Linked DNA regions of Homo sapiens. The protein of the gene in region 2 interacts with the protein of the main gene of each other region in a pairwise test. Each region holds a gene or a part of one and is shown on either strand. Other genes may lie near its edges. The genes, in order: GARRE1 and CAMKK1.

The links.
Region 1: the proteins of CAMKK1 (region 2) and GARRE1 interact in binary tests that used the Homo sapiens proteins (3 or more experiments, as listed by UniProt).

What each region holds. Positions count from the first base shown.
Region 1 is NC_000019.10:34,255,269-34,265,925, reverse strand, and holds part of GARRE1 (granule associated Rac and RHOG effector protein 1), read right to left. Parts: intron 1-10,657. UniProt on the Homo sapiens protein: Acts as an effector of RAC1.
Region 2 is NC_000017.11:3,880,849-3,891,505, forward strand, and holds part of CAMKK1 (calcium/calmodulin-dependent protein kinase kinase 1), read right to left. Parts: intron 9,896-10,657; exon of another isoform or gene 9,883-9,895; coding exon of another isoform or gene 9,845-9,882; intron 4,883-9,844; coding exon of another isoform or gene 4,840-4,882; coding exon 4,480-4,839; intron 3,580-4,479; coding exon 3,532-3,579; intron 3,090-3,531; coding exon 3,036-3,089; intron 2,633-3,035; coding exon 2,581-2,632; intron 2,328-2,580; coding exon 2,194-2,327; intron 1,717-2,193; coding exon 1,680-1,716; intron 1,523-1,679; coding exon of another isoform or gene 1,409-1,522; intron 801-1,408; coding exon 779-800; intron 1-778. UniProt on the Homo sapiens protein: Calcium/calmodulin-dependent protein kinase that belongs to a proposed calcium-triggered signaling cascade involved in a number of cellular processes. Phosphorylates CAMK1, CAMK1D, CAMK1G and CAMK4. Involved in regulating cell apoptosis.

The DNA.
Region 1 (10,657 bases), on a different chromosome or scaffold from region 2:
TAGATGTGAATTCCTGCTCTTAGTAAATATCAGCTGAATAAATGGCACTTACTAACTTTGAGCAAGTCGCCTAACTCTTGTGCCTCAGTACTGCTGAGGATTAAATCCATAAAGCACAGCCTCTGCCATACCCTCAGTCTCCGTAAATGAAAGCTACTGCTCTGAAAGAGGGCGTGGATTAGTAAGAAGATAGCATTTCATCTTCCACTGCAATTCTTAATTCTTGTCTTCTACTAGTCGAAAACAAACTCCCTCGAACCCCCAAAATCTGTAAGTTAAAACAACTTTCAGAAATAAAACTTACCTTCCTGCAGCTCTGGGCCCAACTCCCAAGTCCAGGCAACAAACTAAAAGAAGTAATGCCCTATGCGCTGGAGGGGAAAGAGGTCATGGCTCCTCCCATTTCCGTGCCCACCACTCCCTCCTCTTTCAACCCCAAGCCAAAGGCAGGAACAGAAGGGACACAGTTGAGGAGGGGCATCACCTGGAATTACAAAGTACATTACAAAGTGACTCAAGCACAAGGATGTAGCGCATTCTCTCCCACCTTGACACCCAGGAGCAGCACAGGTCCTTGTGGCTGGTGAGAGGAACCACTTCCGCCTCTTCCTGCCTAGGTCACCAGAGCCTGCGGCACCCAAGTCTGGGAGCCAAGCCAGCTTTCCCCAAACTCTGTTCCCATGAACATATATCCACCTCGGGGACCGGGGGTGGGGTGAGGGAAGATGCGAGTTATTTCCAGGTTTCCTGGCCATAATTAGCATCTCACTAGTACTTAATCCCAAAATCATTTTTAGTAAGAAAATCAGATTTTTTTTCAGGTAATATCTTGCTCTAATTCCACTTTCAAAAATCTTCCCATTATGATTCTTTGCCACTGCCAATTTGAAAACACACTTAACTGACAGTGGCCCAGACACAAGGAACATAATCAAAATGACTTAAAAAAAAGAAAGAAAAGCAATATTCTATCTAGGCACGAATCCTAGAACAGACTCACGGTTAATGTAGAGGCCTGCGTCAAGAACACTCACTGGCAACACTGGTTATTCCCACGTGCCCTGCATTACGAGGATTGTTAAATACGTCACACAGAACACCTCATAGCCATTCCAAACATCAAGGCAGAGCAACCACACTTCACTGAGTCAAAGATGTCACCATTTACAAATCATATCATTGTCTCATATATGCCAAGAAAAACTCTGCCATATAACAATGACATGCCAGCCGGGCGTGGTGGCTCACACCTATAATCCCAGCACTTTGGGAGGCCGAGGTGGGCGGATCACAAGGTCAGGAGATCAAGACCATCCTGGCTAACACAGTGAAACCCCGTCTCTACTAAAAATACAAAAAATTAGCCAGGCATGGTGGCGGGCACCTGTAGTCCCAGCTACTCAGGAGGCTGAGGCAGGAGAATGGCGTGAACCGGGGAGGCAGAGCTTGCAGTGAGCTGAGATCATGCCACTGCATTCTAGCCTGGGCAACAGAGCAAGACTCCGTCCCCCCCTCCAAAAAAAAAAAGACATGTCATCACATGACACGTCCAAATTTCAGGCCTCCTCAAAGCTCTTGTCCTGTTTCTGACTCCTCTGCCTGCCTCAGGCTGGCTGGGACACACAACATGGAAAAAGTCCCTTTGTGTTATTTTCCCTCTAGAAATTACCCATATTTAACAACCATCATTTTGATGAAACCATCTTGGGCCACCTCAGTTCCCAAGGAGCCTTTCTGACTCCTGCAGCCTCTGCTGTCTCTGTCATTAGCTGCATGCTCTCCCTTTCCAAATGAACTGGGAGCATCAGAGACAGAGGCTGGACACATCTTTACACTTACGGTCATGCATAGCACAGGGACAGAGCAACAGAGACGACGACAAACACATACCTCCTGGGAACTGTTCCAAGGACTTTACAAATATTAACTCAGTAATGCCTCACTACAACCCCAGGAGGCAGGTATTACTACCTCCCCATTTTCAGAGGAGGTAAACTGAGGTCAAGGCAGGGGCAGGCCTTGAACCCAAGCCGCCTTGCACAGTCCTCACTCTTAACCTCCATGCTACATTCACTCTACACAACAGCCATGTCCATCATAGACATTTATTTTAAAAGTTATTGTTAAAATGAAAACATAGACCGGGTGCGGTGACTCGCGCCTGTAATCCCAGCACTTTGGGAGGCCGAGGTGGATGGATCACTTGAGGTCAGGAGTTCGAGACCAACCTGGCCAACATGGCCAACATGGTGAAACCCTGTCTCTATTAAAAATACAAAAATTAGCCAGACGTAGTGGCGGGCACCTGTAATCCCAGCTACTCAGGAGGCTGAGGCAGGAGAATCGCTTGAACCCAGGAGGCGGAGGTTGCAGTGAGCCAAGATTGCACCACTTCACTCCAGCCTAGGCAACAGAGCAAGACTCTGTCTCAAAAAAAAAAAAAGAAAAAAAAGAAAATACATATACACAGGGAAAAAAATTCACACCATACAAAATGGTATGCAAAGAAAAAGCTAACTCAGCCTAACAGCCTGGTTTTCTGGGGTCTCATCCCAAAAACAACCACTGTTTCTTTTCTATCATTCCATAAATTATTTCTGCACTTATAAACCTATTTCATGTATATCTATCTATCTATCTATCTATCTATCTATCTATCTCTCTATCGAGAGAGGGAGACATTATTTATTTTATTTTTATTTATTTATTTTTTGAGATGGAATCTTGCTCTGTCACCCAGGCTGGAGTGCAGTGGCACGATCTTGGCTCACTGCAACCTCCACCTCCCAGGTTCAAGCAATTCTCCTGCTGCAGCCTCCTGGACAGCTGGGATTACAGGCACCCGCCACCATGCCCAGTTAATTTTTGTATTTTTAGTAGAGGTGGGGTTTCACCATGTTGTCAGGCTGGTCTCAAACTCTGGACCTCAGGTGATCCGCCCGCCTCAGCCTCTCAAAGTGCTGGGATTACAGGCGTGAGCCACCATGCCTGGCCTATATATATTTTTTTAAACAAATGAGCTCATATTACTTCAAAAGTGGAGAAATTTTTTAAAATTAGAAAAACACAAATGGGCAAACATACATTGTTCTGTACCTTGCTTCTTTCACTGATTTCTCTGAGCTTGATCCACATCTGCACCTGTCCTGTTTTTATTAAATTCTAAGATATAAATATTTTTACATTTTAACTTCGTGGTTTTTCATGAAGTCAGAGGATCTTAGTGTGCTTGGACTTCATCAGGAAACAGGATCACAAAAAGCTTTTAAACATATATAAGACACTGGGAGTTATCTTGGCAGCCATGTGCAGGCTGAATCAAGAAGCAGAGGCCAGGCGAGGTGACTCACGCCTACAATCCCAGCACCTTGGGAGGCCAAGGCAGGCGGATCACCTGAGGTCAGGAGTTCCAGACCAGCCTAGCCAATATGGTGAAACCCCATCTCTACTAAAAATACAAAAATTAGCTGGGCGTGGTGACGCATGCCTGTAATCCCAGCTACTTGGGAGGCCAAGGCAGGAGAATTGCTTCGACCCAGGAGGTGGAGGTTGCAATGAGCTGAGATCGCACTACTGCATTCCAGCCTGGGTGAGAGAGAGACTCCGCCTCAAAAAAAAAAAAAAAAAAAAAAAAAAAAGCAGCAGCTGGGCATGGTGGCTCACTCCTGTAATCCCAGCACTTTGGGAGACCAAGGTGGGCGGATCACAAGGTAAGGAGTTCAAGACCAGCCTGGCCAATATGGTGAAACCCCGCCTCTATTACAAATACAAAAATTAGCCAGGCATGGTGGCACTCACCTGTAGTCCTAGCTACTCGGGAGGCTGAGGCAGAAGAATCGCTTGAACCCAGGGAGGCAGAGGTTGCAGTAAGTCGAGATCCTGCCACTGCCTTCCAGCCAGGGTGACAGAGCAAGATTCCATTTCAAAAAAAAAGGCAGGGAGACCTACCAGGTGACATGTGACATGATGCCACACATACCAGAGGTAAGTACCTACATCAAAGGGTTGTTGTGAGGATTAAACAATGCAATGTAGACAAAGCTCTCAGCATCAAACCTGGTTAGCGCAGTGAGTCGAAGGACTCAGCACAGGACCTGAAGTGCTGTTAGTGCCCAGTTAGACATTGTTATTAGTTATTTCAAGGACTGCTCCCACTTTCCAATGTCATTTCCCTCTACTCCTTATTCATACCTGTCCAGACTCTACCCTCAATCTCCTGCAGCTCAAATACCTCATGCTTGCTCTCACCTCCACACCTTTGGACGTGTCATGCCCCTGCCCAAGAGTCCTCCCCTCTTGCTGTGGCACTGGACTTACTTTTTCCCACAGTACTCAGCTCAAGAACAGCCTTCTCCAGAAGTCTCCCCTGAGAACTGCAGGCTGGATTCCCTGGATGAGCAGTGTAGGAAGAGCTTATCTGTCATTACTTCCCAGTGTCTGTTTATCAGCTTATTCAATGCACCCAGAAGCAAGCAGTTCCATGGGGATTAATTATTTAGGCTATCTAAGCTCAAAGAAAACTGATGTATGAACCAGAGGCCAGTTACTACTTTATGAATACCAACGAGAGCTAATACTGTCATTGAATACTTATCACAGGTGCCGGGTAGCACGCTCAGAGCCCTCACTGCAACACTAAGAGAAAGGTGCTACTATTATCCCCATTCTACAAATCAGAAAACTGAAAGATTAGCCAGCATCCCAAGACCAGGATCTGATCCAAGCAGCTTAGATGCAGAGCCCTCAACCACTCACATTCTCTCCTTACCAAGAAATCTCCACGTGCAGCTATCTTCTACTCAGATGGTACTGGGAGGACAGACGCTAAGCAAGGGAGAGACCCTTGCAGCCAGAGGCAACAACAGGGACACGCCCATCTGTGTGTTAGTGCAGATGGCTTTGTGGAGGGAACGCTGCACTGCTCCTCTGGTCAGGCCCCCAGAGAGTGCTACACACACACCACGTAATTCCTCTCTTGGACCCGCCACCCCAATTTCCAGACACTGTCCCAATCCTCTCCCAGAAACACAAGTATTTCTTCTGAGGATACAAAATTAAGTTTAAGCTTTCCAGCTACAAACACATTCCATGCATGCCTTCCTGGGGTTATAGCTGGGTCAGTTTGGTTGAATTTAAAGTTTTCCCTGAGATTCTTCAAACTACATTTACGAAATATCTTTTGACTTATATCTTTTCTATAGATAGCTAATGTGTATGACATTTTTTCTGATTTCATTCTCAGATGATCATTCATTCCTTCAACAAATACTTCATTAATGCTAAACGACGAGTTAGTGGGTGCAGCACACCAGCATGGCACATGTATACATATGTAACTAACCTGCACATTGTGCACATGTACCCTAAAACTTAAAGTATAATAATAAAATAAAAATAAAAAAATGATATTACCAAATCCTTGTCATAGAAAAGGTGATCAAGAAGTATATAGCCAAAATTATCAGGAAAAGATATTATAGGCTTATCTTGGAGATATTGCAGGTGTCATTCCAGATCATTTCAAGAAAGTGAATATCGCAATGAAGCAAGTCACATGATGTTTTTTATTTTCCTGTACATATAAAAGTTATATTTACACTATATTGTAGTCTGTTAAGTATGCAATCGCATTGTCACAAAAACAATGCACATACCTTAATTTAAAAATACTTCATTACTAAAAAATGCTAATGATCATCTGCATCTTCAGCAAGTGGTAAACTTTTTGTTGGCAGAGGGTCTTGCCGTGATGTTGATGGCTGCTAATTGATCAGAGTGTGGGTGCTAAAGGTTGGGGTGGCTGTGGCAATTTCTTAAAATAAGGTTTATTAGTCTGTTCTCACCCTGCTATGGGGAAATGCCCAAGACTAGGTAATTTATAAAGGAAAGAGGCTTAATTGATTCACAGTTCCCCAGGGCTGGGAGGCCTCAGAAAACATATTCATGGCAGAAGGGGAAGCAAACACGTCCTTCTTCACATGGCAGCAGCAAGAAGAATGAGACCCAAGTGAAGGGGGAAGCCCCTTATAAAGCCATCAGATCTTGTGAGAAGTTGCTCACTATCACAAGCATAGCATGGGGGAAACTGCTCATATGATTAAATTACCTCCCATTAGGTCCTTCCCACCACATGTGGGGATTATGGGAACTACAATTCAAGATGAGATTTGGGTGAGGACACAGCCTAACCATATCATTCTGCCCCTGGCTCCTCATGTCCCCTCATTAAACTGAATGAAATACAAAACAAACAAACAAACAAACAAAAAAAACTTCATCATTTCCACGCACTGTGTTCTAGGCCCTGGAGATCAAAGCAGTAAATAAGACACGCAAGATCTCTGAAACCTGGGAGAGGTTACTTGGTGACTCCCCTTCTAGGCACTTATAATACTTTATGACAATTGCTTATTTGGCATTCTTCCCAGGATGTGCTGTCCAGCTCTGTATTCTGATCTTCCAGTAAAGTAACTGGGCTGTACTGTAGGTACTCCATAAATGTGAGCTAACTCAATTCTTGAGTAAATTCACTGGGTCTCCTCTTTCACATCCAGAGTAGGACCACGTTAAGCCTGAAATCCCTTAAGAAAAGGTACAAAGTCTAAATCGAGGTGTAGGGATAGAAAGCAAATGGCAAATACAATCCATATCAAGAAGGAAGATGTGATTCACCGGCTGGTAAGAACCTTAAGAGTCAGGAAGGACAGGACACCTTGATAAGTGATATTTATTTATTTATTTATTTACTTATTTATTTTGAGACAGGGTCTCGCTCTGTTGCTTGGGCTGGAGTGCAGTGGCACAATCACAGTTCACTGAATCCTTAACCTCCTAGGCTCAAGCAATCCTCCGGCCTCAGCCTCCCAAGTAGCTGGAATTATAGGCATGGACCACCACACCTAGATAATTTTGGAGTCTCACTATGTTGCCTAGGCTGATCTCAAGCAATCCTCCCACCTTGGCCTCCCAAACTTCTGGGATCACAGGCATGAGCCCCTGTGCCAGACCTAAAATTCATTTTTTTAAGAGACAGAGGTCTCACTATGTTGCCCAGGCTGGTCTCCAACTCCTGAGAGCATGTAATCCTCTCACCTTGTCCTCGCAAAGAAGTGATATTTTCTTTTCTTTTTTTTTTTGAGACGGAGTCTTACTCTGTCGCCCAGGCTGGAGTGCAGTGGCACGATCTCAGCTCACTGCAAGCTCCGCCTCCCAGGTTCACACCATTCTCCTACCTCAGCCTCCTGAGTAGCTGGGACTACAGGCGCCCATCGCCATGTCCGGCTAATTTTTTAATATTTTTTTTTTAGTAGAGATGGGGTTTCACCATGTTAGCCAAGATGGTCTCGGTCTCCTGACCTCGTGATCCGCTCACCTCGGCCTCCCAAAGTGCTGGGATTACAGGCGTGAGCCACTGCGCCCGGCCAGAAGTGATATTTTCTTCACCTGGAGAAAGCATGGCCTCAGGAACATGTCCAGGGGTTACTGAACAGGAGAAAAAGAATTGACCTGCAGAAAACTCTGAGTCGGGGGTCACTAAGTGGTGGCAGAGGTAAGGAAATGAGGTGGTTCTCTACCCAGGACTCATATACTGGATAAGTGGGAAGGAATATGTTTTGGAGCGGGGGTAAGAGGTACAAAACTAGGCTTCAGAAAATGCCCCAAGGTAGATGTATGAAGAGAAGCAGTAAAGACAAATGAGAAAGTGCAGTCACAGATTTCAGGAAATGACCACACTAGTTCCAAGTCAAGAAGGCCAATCAAGGCCAAGCGTGGTGTCTCACGCCTGTAATCCCAGCACTTTTGAGGTCAGGAGTTCAAGACCAGCCTGGCCAACATGGTGAAACCCCATCTCTATTAAAAATACAAAAATTTGCTGGGGGTGGTGGCGCAGACCTGTAATCCCAGCTACTCGGGAGGCTGAGGCAGGAGACTCGTTTGAACCCTGGAGCCAGAGGTTGCAGTGAGCTGAGACCGAGCCACTGCACTCCAGTCTGGGCAACAGAGCAAGACTCTGTCTCAAAAAAAAAAAAAAGAAAAAAAAGAAAAAGAAAAAAGAAGGCCAATCAATGGGAGATTCACGAGAGCAAGAAAGAATAGCTCACCATGCCAAATACCTGAGATCAAAGTCAAGGAAAATAATTAAGCAATGGCCACTGCATGCATCAGTTAGGGGACCCTCAAGAGGGCAGTTTCAGTAGAGTTAAAGACATTTGAAGCACAAGCACAACCTGTTGCTGTTTTTCCTTAATCCAAACACAACATTCAGGCTCTCTGTGAACTTACACTTCAGAGAAAACGGCAACCTGCTTTTCAATAACTCCAAAACAAATCAATTCCTTATCTAAACCAACATTTTTTTGCCTACCTAGGAAGATCATCATTTTTCACTAAGGACAAAGTTACAGGAGGAAAAAAGAGTGATTAGCCAGGGGTGGTGGCTCACAACTGTGATCCCAGCTCCTAGGGAGGCTGAGGCAGAAGAATTGCTTGAACCTGGGAGGTGGAGGTTGCAGTAAGCCAAGATTGCGCCACTGCACTCCAGCCTCGGGGACAGAGGGAGACTCCGACTCAAAAAAAAAGAGAGTGGACACCCAACCCATGTGATATCCCAGCCTGCTAGCTTTCAGAAACAATTATTTCCTATAGACTTGGAAGACCCACTTGACACATGGATCCTGATGTATTAGGCTATAGGTTTTCAACAGAACAAACATTTACTAAAATTTTCACAGAATCATGTGCAATTTGCTTAAAAAAAAAAAAAAGGATGCTTAAAACATGGTCTTCCAAACATCTGGAGATAATTTTAGATTGAAAAATCTAGGCTTGCCAAGGGAATCTGAGAACTTTTCTATCTTGGTCTCCAATGCCAACCTACGTATTTGTGTGCAAAAATAGAGGAAGATTAGAATCTCAAATGCCACACTGAAAAGTTGCCACAACAAACCTGAACTCTTCATATGGAGTTTGTTATCTTGTCAGCAAGAAAGCAAATGAAACGGCAATAAACTAAACTTTTTGCTTTAAAAAGAAAAAAAAAATCTCAAACATGAAATATTCCCTGTACTTGTATTGGAAAATGATTTCTTTTTAAAACAAAATATTGTGAAGATACTGTGAAAAGAAAATACTGTGATTTTTAAAGACACTTGAAAACATCTAAGCACACACAAAATGTAAATATGAACTTTGTAAGTAGCCCTTACAAACATACACTTAGAACTTTTAGTCTAAAATATGATAAAATGATAAAGCTTACATATTATTCAATAAATCTGGAACTGACTAGCCATTTACAAAATATTTCATATTTTAAACCAAGAATGAATTTTAGGTAGACTAAAGGCAAAAAAATAAAACCATGAAACGATGAGACGCAAACATGAATTTCTTTTTTTTTTTTTTTGAGATGGAGTCTCACTCTGTTGCCCAGGCTGGAGCGCAGTGGCACGACCTCGGCTCACTGCAACCTTCGCCTCCTGGGCTCAAGCGATTCTCCTGCCTCAGCCTCCCAAGTAGCTGGGACTACAGGAGCGCGCCACCATGCTTGGCTAATGTGTTTTTTTGTATTTTTTTAGTTGAATCCGGGTTTCACCACGTTGGCCAGGCTGGTCTAGAACTCCTGACCTCAAGTGATCCGCCCGCCTCGGCCTCCCAAAGTGCTGGGATTACAGGCATGAGCCATCGCGCCAGGCTGGAATTTTTTTTTATGACAAAGAGACAGAAAAATTGTCCAAATATGTCAAAGGAAAACAAATACTATGTATTCTTAAAAATTGAACGTTACGGCCGGACACGGTGGCTCACGCCTATAATCCCAGCACTTTGGAACGCCGAGCCAGGCGGATCACCTGAGGTCAGGAGTTCGAGACCAACCTGGTCAACTGGGCGAAACCCTGTCTCTACTAAAAATACAAAAATTAGCCGGGCGTGGTGGGTGCCTGTAATCTCAGCTACTCGGGAGACTAAAGCAGGAGAATCGCTCGAACCCGGGAGGCTAAGGTTGCAGTTAATCTAGATCCCGCCACTGCACTCCAGCCTGGGTGACAGAGGGAGACTGTCTCAAAAAAAAACAAATAAAGTTACCTTTGACCCCATTTGTAAATTTATTCTAAGATAACAATCAGACCAGGTGTAATATCTCACACTTGTAATCCCAACACTTTGGAAGGCGAAGGCGTGAGGGTCGCTTGAGGCCAGAAGTTTTGAGACCAGCCTGGGCAACAGTCTCTTATTAAAAAAAAAAAAAAAAGACCATATCAAACAAATCCTTCCGGCAGAATTGTTTATCTTGTGACAAATTGGAAACTATCTCAATGCTCATCGGTGGTTAAATCACATACTGTAAAGTCCATAAAAATAACAATACCTATCTGTATTTATTGATTATCACCAAAATGTTAGCAGTGGTTGTCACTGAATGGTAGACTGGCAGATGACTGTCATTTTCTACCTTAAGACTTTTTGTGTCGTCTTGAGTGTTTTGCCAGGAAAGGAGAATTAACTGCTTTTATAATGGGGATGAGGGACCAGAACAAGGTATTTTCAAACTGGAGGCCCCCAAAGCTGAGTCTCTGGAAAATTTCTAAAAAGTCTAAACAAAATTCTTATCATGCCAACCAGGCACGCTTCTTTCCTCGCACCGCGCGGCGCAGAA
Region 2 (10,657 bases):
CTGCTTTGTAAAATTTTGGTTTCAGTTACAGATATGGATAGCAATAGAAATATATATTTCTTGTTTTGGATAGAGGTCAAAACATTTGAAAGCCTCCAAGTCTTAAAGGGACACCACTCCCTGCCCCTCTCCCCAGATTGGTCTGTAGGGAGCCGCCCAGGCAAAGGGACAAGCCGCAGGCTGCATTCAAGCCTTGGCAGTGAGGGTCCCGGACCACCCAGCCCCGTGCTCATTACTCCATGTCATCTGCTCTGTAAATACCCTGAAAAGCCGCATAGGGCAGACATGTGGAAGCCTGGGCTCCATCAGTGACTTGCTGTGTGACCTTGAGCAAGCCACGTACCTTCTCTGGTCCTTAGCTTTCCCTCTCACAAATGGGAGCAACTGGAATCCCACCCACTCCATTCACAGACTTGTTGGAAAGCTGAAAAACCCTTTGTGATTTGAATACCGGTAAGAGTTGAGTCCCACCTCTATATACTTTTACCTAAAAAACACTCCTTTCTTCCCCCTCTCCTCCATCCCTATCTTCCTAGTTCTTCAAGGCCTGGGTCAAAATCCGTCCCCTTTTCCAGAGGTCTCCCTGACTATTTCAGCCTCACTGACCCCCATCAGCCTTCAAAGAATGGTCCTCTTGGTCTCTTATTTACCCCTAAGGGCAGGGCCTCCGTCTCTGACTTCTCCTAGAGTAGCTGACCCCTGGGCTGGGGACACAGGGAGGGAAAGGAAGGAAGGCCTGGATGAGAATTGACCTGCCTGATCAGGACGGGGAACTCACCCCTTTCTCAGGAGGTCAAACACTGAAAGAAAAGACAAGAAGGTAAGGTGTAGCTGGCTGGCAAAGCAGCCGATGCCAAGGTCCCTCCCTGTTCTGGAGGGTAGGAGAGGGGGCAGGCATGCAGGCATACTCGAGGCAGGGACAGGACAGGGGACCCTGGGATATGAGAGCAAATAAATGCATGAGAGTGGGGTCTGCTATGGACCTGTCTCATCTGATCCTCAGGTGCCAGGTGAGAACCATCAGCATCAGCATGGGGCCCTTTTACAGAGGGGGAAACTGAGGCACAGAGAAGGGGCAGAAATTTTCCTAAAGGTCATAGCAGACAGGCAGGTAGGGTAGGGAGTGGAGACTAAAGCCTCAGCCTCTAATTCCTAAGCCAGTTCTTCTTCTGCCCCATTTTCTGAGGCCTCCTCTAAGCCCAGCCCTGAACCAGACACAAGGAACTAAAATAATAACATTACTATTAACAAGGATAATAACGAATGTGCTTTACATATAATTACTCATTTACTCTTCACAGGAACCCTATGAGGTAGACACCACTAGTATCCCTGTTTTATAGGTGGGAAAACTGAGGCACAGAGCTACAGTGTCTGGGAACCCATGCAGCCTGCTTCCTGCATCTACCTGAGCGCGCAGCCCACGTGGATCCACTGTCTTGCTGCTCAGAGGGAAGCAGGGAGTGGGGCTTGGCGATATTTGTTGAATCTAACTGGATATTCTGGGCCTGGTTCTGCAGGGCTGGGCAAGGGAATCCAGGGCTTCAGAACGTGTGTTTTTCTTCTGTCCCCAGGAGGTCAGTGCATTTACACCGCCCACCTGAAGGTCATACATGTCCCAAGGGAGCCCTTGGGCCAGCCCTGAGTGAGCTGCTGTGGGAATGAGCCAGGTCACTCACCCAAATAGAGGTTGTCCTCAGCTGGGTCATCCAGGACCTGGTCAGAGGGAGCAGACATGGGGGTGGGGCTTGAGGAGGCGTGGGGTTGGAGGTCCCAGGCCTCCTGGTCCTTGCCAGCCCCAGAACCCTTAGTATGCATGCAACCACCCCAGACAAGGAAGCAGGAAGTGTACAGGTGGTGCCAGACTGATGGGGCCTCAGAAGTCACCGACCCCCAACCTGGCCCGCCACACGACATCCAGCCTTCCTCCCCTCCAGCTGCAATGAGGGGCTCACTTCTTGCCTCTGGGGCAGCCCCTCACCCTCCATGGGAACTTGGGAACATCCCTGACCAGGCTGGGCCCCCAAAGCCTTCCTGCAGCCCCACCCCAAGTCTGGCCCTGTCCTCAGAGGCCTCAGCCACATCTGCCACCTGGGCAAGATCCCTGGGTCTGTGCTAGGGGCTCCCCAGCACCAGAAGCGGCTCCCATGAGACTCAGGTGCTGGTTCCCACCTGCTCACCACCACCCCCTACCTCGATCAGTTTGACCACATTCACGTGGTCCAGCTTCTTCAGGATGGCAATCTCCTGGTACACCCGCTCCAGGGGCAGCAGCTGCTTGGCTGGTCCTCCCTGGGCAGCCTGGGACCCTCTCGGGGGAGGGCGACCTGTGACCAGGAAGAGAACTCAAACACCTGTTCCAGGTGGCTGGGCCTCACCGTGGCCCCCAAACCAGTCTCAAGCAAGAGTCTTGCATGCCCGTGGTCTTGTCCCAACCCACAGGGCACATTCTGTCCCCAGGCCTCTGCTCACGCTGTCTCCCTCTCTACCCCATTCCTAGCCAAAACTAGCTCAGGATCGAGGTCTCCTCCTCTGCCTCCAGGCTAGGAGCTCCCAGGGACAGGATCAGAAGATACATACGTGGAAAGCCATACTGCTTCAGTAACTTCTTTTTGGAAAGGACTTTCATTGCCTAAGGAAGGAGGGACAGAAATGTCACTACTGTGCAGCCACCAGGGGCTAGAACAGGCTGGTACATGTGGACTGAGGTCCGGAGAGGCACACTGGACATCTGCTACTGGCCCTGAGGGTGTGGCCCAGGTAAGTGTTAAGCGGGGTTGGGGGTGGCCATATCTGAGCCTAGCCCTTCCCCTTATTCCCCCAGCAAGCCTTTCTGGAGCTTTCCCCTCAGAGGAATCCAGTCTCTGCTTGCATATCCCCAGGGTTAGGAAGCTCATTCCTTTGCATACCCCTAGGGACAGGGAGCTCACTCTCAGGCAGCCCTGTCCTCTATCTCCTAAGCACAACTCCTGCCCCACCCCTCAGGCTTCCAGGGCCTGGCTTGGGCAACACCTCCCTCGTATCCCCAGACTCACATAGTGTCTGTCTTCACTTTCGTTGTAGGCCAGCCTCACCACACCGTAGGCACCCTGCAGATAGGCATCAGTCAGCCCCACCTGGACAGGGCAACCCCTCCCAGGACCAGCTCAGGAGGTGGGGAGCCGAGCAGCTCTGGTCTCTCCTGCACCCCATCTGCACTACCCACCACCAGCTGGCTCACGGGCAAATATTGTAGCAGATGGGGAGGGGACTCCTGCGCCCTGGTAACTGCCCCTGCTTGGCTCCACATGGCTCCATGCCTCCCTCAGTCCCTCCTTGTCCACTGTCAAGAACTCAGAGAGTCGGGAATCAGGAGCCATCTTCCACCCTCCCCCTGGGTACCTGGGTACTTCCCACAGGGCACGAAACTGTCCTCACCTCCAGGCTAGGACTTGCCTGGCTCTGCCTCCCGTTCCCTCCCACACGAGAGAAGGAGCAGCGCCAAACAGAGAATCCCGAAGCCCCCACTGCTCTCGGCCTGCCCACTCCTACCTTGCCAATCTCACTCTGCAGCTTGTACTGGTTCAGCTGCACGCAGTCCTGTGGGGGAAGAGCGAGCACCAGGTGGAGCTGGGTCCGGAGGCAGCACTGCTCCTACCTCAGAGCCCGTTCAGGGTCCAATTCTGGCCATAAGCTCCTCATTCCCGGACCCCCAGGTCTCACCAAGCTTTTGAGTTTGGATGGGGAAGTTGGTGGTGCCATCGCCCCCGTATGTGACGAGAAGACGTGGCTCATGTTTGAAAACATGGATGGTGACGCCATGGCTGTGCCTTGTTCCCCAGAAGCAGTGGTGAAGGGAAAACGCTAATTCCTGTCTGGATTCTGGAGTCTGGAAGACCCTAATCCATGAGAAACCCATGAGCAACTATTTCCAGAAGCAGCTGAATGAGAAGGTCTAGACTCCAAGGACAAGATGAGGAGCCCTGGGCACAGAGGCTGAGAGCCTGGGTTCAGGCACAGAAAGCTCAGCCCCTGACATCTGTAGACTGCTTGGAACCTGAGTTCACTTTCAGACCTAAATGGCAAGAACTCCAGCAGAAGCCCAGAGGCTGGAGGCAGGCCGGCCGCTTCTGAGTCACAGCAGACTCTAAGAGGCAGAATTAGAGGCGAGGGGTGCAAGCTGGAGAAGAGTTAGGGGGGAAGGGGGACATAGCATCTATCTTCACATCTCTAAGAAGACTACATAGGGGACCAGGGAGAGACCTATTTCCTAGGCCTGGGCTGGGAGTGGGAATAGCAGGACTTAGGGAAGGCAGCCTTTGGCTCAGCTGGAGCTCCCCTGGTTGGGAAGAAGCTATATTGTTAGGTAGTGATCTCCCCAGCTCTGAGGGTATGCAAACCAAAGCTAGATAGCCGTGTGGCACAGACAGGGGCAGGAAAGAGTCTTCATTGCAGACTACTGAGGGGCTCATGAACAACCCCTCGTTCTGCCCCACCAACCTCTGCATCTGAGATGGCCACGTGGTGGGACTCGATGGTGGGCCTCCGCCAGGCCCGGGGGGAGATGTGGCTGGCAGGCCCCGTGGCATAAGGCCCAGCCTGCGCCTCCAGATAGCTTCCTGCTGGCCGCTCCTGTAGGGAAAGCTTCCTGGCTGAGAGGCTAGGCCGGGCTGGGAGCAGTCTTGAAGTACTGCCAGGGATCACAGAGGCAGCTCTGGCCCGTGGTGGGGGGTCCACACCGTTTCTAGTAGGCTCTGGGCCACCATCTGCCTCCTCCAAGTGAGTCACATCGATGGCTGCCACCCGTTCTACCAGCTCTGCCCGAGGATCCTGGCAGCAGACAGCTGGACCCCCCTCCATTGCTTCAGTCAAGGGGGTTCTTCTGCGTAGCCTTGTTGGGAACCTGAGAAAAGAAGGCAGAGAAGGCTTCACTCCTGGGTGTCAGGCTGGCTACCAGGTAAGGTAGCCACAGCGCTGTGGGTCCCACCTCCATGCCTTTGCCCTGGCTGTTCCCTCTACCGGGATTGCCAACACCCAAACTCAAGTCTGTCCCTATGACCTGAATGAATTCACATCGGTTCTGCCGCATGCCAGCCCTCTAGGCCTCAGTATCCCTGCCGGTAACAGAGGCAGTCACTTCTGCCTGCTGGCTTCACAGGGAAGCAGAGAGAATCTGATATTCTGGAATCAGGACAGACAGGGCAGAAGCCTGGAGGCCCAGCAGCACTGGAAGGGGCAGAGCCCAGGGTCAGCTCAGCCCCAGCACAGCATGCAGCCCTGTGAGTCATGAGTCCCAACCCTTGACAGCAGAGCACTCCGACACTGCCTCCTGGAAGCTGAGCTAGACACTAGTAACTCAGAAGCCTTGCTGATGCTTCAGACCCACCCGCCTCCTCCAGGGAGCCCTCCTTGATGTTTCAGCCTCCTACCCCCATCCCTCTCACTGCTTCCAGGAAGACTTCCCTGGGGCTCCCGACTCCAGCCAGCCCTGCCTCATTGACGTCTGTCAAAACAAGGGGATGGGCCCCACATGGTGGCTCACACTTGTAATCCCAGCACTTTGGGAGGCCGAGGCAGGTGGATCACCTGAGGTCAGAAGTTCGAGACTAGCCTGGCTAACATGGCAAAACTCTGTCTCTATTAAAAATACAAAAATTAGCCAGGCATGGTGGCGTGCACCTGAAATCCCATCTACTCGGGAGGCTGAGGCAGGAGAATCGTGTGAACTTGGGAGGTGGAGGTTGCAGTGAGCCAAGATCACGCCACTACACTCCAGCCTGGGTGACGGAGCAAGACTCGGTTTCAAAAAAAAGCAAGGGGATGAGAATGAGGGGAATGAGGGGTGAAACAGGGGCATGACATCCCCTGAGACTCATGTTCTCAAACTCACTGTGTGGCGGCTGAAACATCAGGGAGGTGACCCCCAGCCCTCACCTTCAGCCATGACCCTGGGCTACATCCTGACCCCGGACTGAACCCTGACACTCAGCCTGAGACCCCCATCTCTGTCCCAGGCTTGTAGAGCGCTGGCCATGCCCAACCTGATGCCCTTCCCCCTGCTTGCGCTGGACTCTGCATGTTCTCAGGAGAAGGAAGTGAGTGAACTCCTGACCCTCCATCCTTCCTGTCTGCTGGTAACTTCCTCCGAACCCACACAGCAACTGAGAACATGGGTCTCAGGGAGACCCAGAGTACGCATGGTGAAGCGCCTGCTCTACCGCTCGTTCCCCATCCCCTTGCTTTGACAGATGTCAGCGAGGCAGGGCTGGCTGGAGTCCACCGGCCACTGAGGAGCCAGGACTGGGTTCCAGTCCTGCCTGCTGACCCACCAGGGGCCCTAGACCAGCTCCTTCCCGACTCTGAGCCCCAGTCTCCCGACTTGTCCTGTGGATTCCCTGCCTTCCCATATTTTCCAGGCTCACAGCAGGGTTTGGAGGTAGACTGAGGGTAAGGGTGAGGTCCAGACCCCCTGTGCCCGGTACGCAGTGTGTTGAATGAGTAGAAGCCTGGAGGCGGTGGGGCTGGTGCTGACATGGAGAAAGGAAGAGAGGAGGCTCCACACTAGGAACAGGAAAAGTCATGGAAGCTGGACCCAGAGGAGTGAGAGGGAGTTAATGAGGCTGGAACATCAAGGAGGCCTCCCTGGAGGAGGTGAAGGAGGTGAGGAGGCTGAGTGAGGCTAGAGTATCAGGGAGGCCTCCCTGGAAGAGAGGGCAGGAGACAGTGAGTGCGGCTGTGGCACAAGGAGGCCTCCCTGGAGGAGGTGAGAGGGGACAGGGAGTGGGGCTGTGGCACAGGGAGGCCTCCCTGGAGGAGGTGAGAGAGGACAGAGAGTGGGGCTGTGGCATAAGGAGGCCTCCCCAGAGGAGGTGAGAGGCTGTGGCATAGGGAGGCCTCCCTGGAGGAGGTGAGAGGGACAGTGAGTGGGGCTGGAGCTTCGGGGAGAGCTTGGAAACCAGACAGCATAGGAAGGAGGAAGCCAAAGCTGGGAACACCCTCCAGGACCCGCCAGGCTCCTCCCAGCAGGTGGCCCACCCCTCCGCCCCTTCCCCTCACTCCGCATGCCTTGTTTTTCCCTCCCGAATGTAAGTTTCATGAGATTAGGACGCTCATCTGCCTTGTCTCCAAAAGATCATCAGTGCCTGGCATGTGATAGGAACTCGATAAATATTTGTTGAATAAATGAGTGGTTGCCATAGTGATCGTTACAGCCCTGTCCCCATTAGACAGATGAGAAAGCAGCCTCAGAGAGGCAACCCCAGCAAGCCTCAGGCCCCAGCACATATAACAGAATGAACTCCAGAGTCAGGAGCTCCTGCTTTTTGGCCCTAGGCAGGGACTACGGGACTCAGAGCCGCCACAGGCAGAAGCCACAGGCTGCCCGGGCCCATAAAATTTGCGTATTTCCTTGAGGTTGCCATTCCAGCAAGAGGCCATCCTCCTTTACCCTTGAACACCTTTCCCTGCTTTTCTTAGATAGGTAGAGGGAGGCCCAGCGGGTGGGGATGGGCCCGGGGTCACCCAGCAAGTCGGGGCAGAAGGTTTCCTGTTCCAGCCTGAGCCCTGTTACCCGGTTTGGCGCCCAGGCTCTGAAGCCAGGCAGCCAGGCTGCACCCTTTCCTGGCTGGGAGCCCGTGAGCAGGTGGCTTCGCCTCTGTGCCTTGGGTTTTCCTCGCCCGCAAGATGGGGTTCTAGCGGGCCTCACCTCACCGCACGTGGTGAGATGCTGAGGAGGGAACGCCCGTAAGGCGCTCAGAACAGTGCCTGCCACTAAGGAGGCCGTAAAAGTGAGTTGTTGTTGTGCGGCTGCTGTTGTGATTGCTCGGGACACGCTGAGGCCCAGATGGATGCGCGGGCGGGCGGAAGGCGGCCGCGAGGGCTGACGTCAGGCTCCCCATCCCTCCCTCCCGCCTGGATCAAATTCAGGTGACTAAGCGCGTCTGCGAGGGAGGCGGCCGGCCGGGGAGGCCCGAGGTTCCTGCCGCGTGTCCGGGAGACAGGGCCTGGCGCCCCGGCCGCGTGTGTGAGGGCGTGTGTCCCCACAGGAGGGAATATGTGTGCGCAGGCTGTGGACCAGGGTGGTGGCGTGTGTGTGTGTGTGTGTGTGTTGTGGGTCCCCACACAGGAGCGCACTGCATGGAGATGAAAACCTCGGTGTGATGTGTGTGTGCGCAGGTGTGTTTATGCGCCTGTGTGCCTGCAGGTCTCCGTGTACCTATGCCCAGGGTAGGGGGGTGGTCCGCGCCCCTGGGGGCCCTGGGAGCCTGATCCCAGAGCTCATATCTGGACTTTTCCCCATAGTCACTGGTCCCACCAGCCTGGCACTGCCTGCTGGGCTGGATTCTGTGCCCCGGGCGGAAACCCAGGCCCATCTGGAGGCTCACACAGGGGGTGTCTCAAGGCCCTTCCCAAGCTCAGGCCTTAGTAGATACTCTGTAGAAACTTAATTCGGTGGATAACTAGGGCCATGTGGGCAAACAGAAAGATGGACAGACAGGCCGGGAACCAGGCCCATGGTACAGCGAAGGATTCCTGTGGGCATGGGCACTGGCTTAGTCCTGCGGCCGTGAACAGCCAGACTCAAGCCCTCCCTCATTGGGAAAAACTACTGCAATCCTGTCCCCCCAGACTGGGGATCTGCTGCCTCGGACAAGTCATCGAGCCTCTTGGAGCCTCTGTTTCCTAACACGTGCATCAAGCAGAAGGCCACTGTCCTGCCAACTCCCAGGGCGATGGAAGGAACAGAATGAGGTGTGGACACAGGAGTAGTTTGTGCCACAGCACTGTGGGGCTGGGATGTGGCTGTGTCTAGAAGCGTCCAAGAGAGCCTTGATGTGCAAGGTCCAACCCCACCTCTGCCCCCAGCTCCAAGATGGCCTGGCACATATCCCCCACCCAGGTTTTTCCTCCCAGGCTGTGCCCCACCCCCCAAGCGTCTGGCCACTCCCAAGGAATGTGGGCCCCCGGCTCCAGACGCCCACTTGGCCTGGCTTCTTCCACAGGACATGCCCCATCCAGCTGCATCCCTCAAAGGAGCCCCAGAGCAGGCAGACCCTGCTGCCATCCACGCGGGTTCAAGTAGCTCCACCTGGGAGCTGGTCAGGCCCTGGTCAGGCCTCATTCTGAGCGCTGGAAGGCCGCTGTGAACCCCAGTGCCAAGCCGAGGCAGGGGACCAGCTACATCCAGGCGAGGGGATGGACAGCCGTGACCAGCAGAGGACCGAACAGAAGGGAAAGCCGCAGAGGTGGCGGCCACCCAGGCCAGACACAGAAGGTGGTCCTCCCATGCCTGGGCCGCCTCACTGGAGCTGTGTTTATGATCCTGGCGAGTATCTGGATGGCCCTGGCAACGGGTGCCCTCCGCAGCTCCCGCCCCCACCCGGGATGACTCAGTCCCCTTGAGGGAGGCCCAGGCGTCTGGTGCCAAGTCATGCTTGACGACTCCTGCTGTGAGGACGCCCGCTCCCACCATCCCTGGGGAGCCCCCAAGCACCAATACGGGCTGTTGCCTGACTCAGCACAGCTACCCCCAGCGCATCGTCCTGGCCCACCCACGGAGGCTGATGGTCTCCAGGCCTCATCCTCTGCCCCTCCTCATCCTCCACACCAGGTCTGTGCCTCCAGCCCCACTCTTTCCAGCTAGCTGCCACCTCCCCGTCCATGTTCCCGAGCAGCTCAGATCCAACAGGCCCCAGATTCAACTCAGCATCTTCCCCAAACCTGCTCGTCCTCCTCTGTCTCCATTGCGAGACGGGTACCACACCCTCCCCATTCTTTCCTGACCCAGGTCAGCAATCCGGGAGCCCTCCTTGTCACTCGTCCTTTCCCTGTTGCCCACCCTTGCTCCCCACAACCCCACACTTACTCTCCACTGCAGCCACACCACAGCTTCCCAAATTGCATACTCTGTTCTGCTGCCAGGCCTCAGTACAAGCTGTGCCTTCTGCCAGGAACACACCTCCCTCTCCTCTGCTGCCTGGAGGACAGCTCAGACATCGCCTCTTCTGAGCCCTCCTTGATCTCCCCACTACCTGCTGGGTGAGCTCACCAAGTCAAACCCCTTAGAAGTCCAGATTCTACCCACTGCTTCGTTTCCCACTATGTGGGTCTTCCCTGACTCCAGGCTAACACCTCCACCCCACCCTACCCCATCCTCCACACCAGCTGCTGGAGGGATTTCCAACATGCAAATGTGGTTATAGTTCTCCCAGACCTGGCCTTCCAGGAACTCGGAATGTCATGGATAGAGGAGCAGAAGTGGCCTCAGACTGGGGGCAAGGTTGGGGGGGGGGTCACAGGCTAGGGAGCAGCCAGGGACATGGACGCCTGGGATGCAAGCACAAATAGTCACGGAGCACCTGCTGTCTGCCAGACTCTGTGCAAGCCTGTGTGGGGAGATACAGCAGTGAACCAAAAAGACCAAGTCTCTGCTCTCATACAGTTTAATTTCTCGTGGGGGCAAGAAGCAACAAACAAGAAAGCCAGTGATTCAGATATGATATGTCAAGTGGTACATATAGGAAGAAAAATACAGCCGAGTAAGAAGGATCAAGAGAAAGGGGCTGGGAGATGCTGCTGATACAGTGTAGTTGAGGAAGGCCTTTTGGGAGCAGGACTGGAGCAGACACCTGAAGGAAGGAAGGGGCAGTAGGCAGTGTAGTTATCTGGGGAAGAGCAT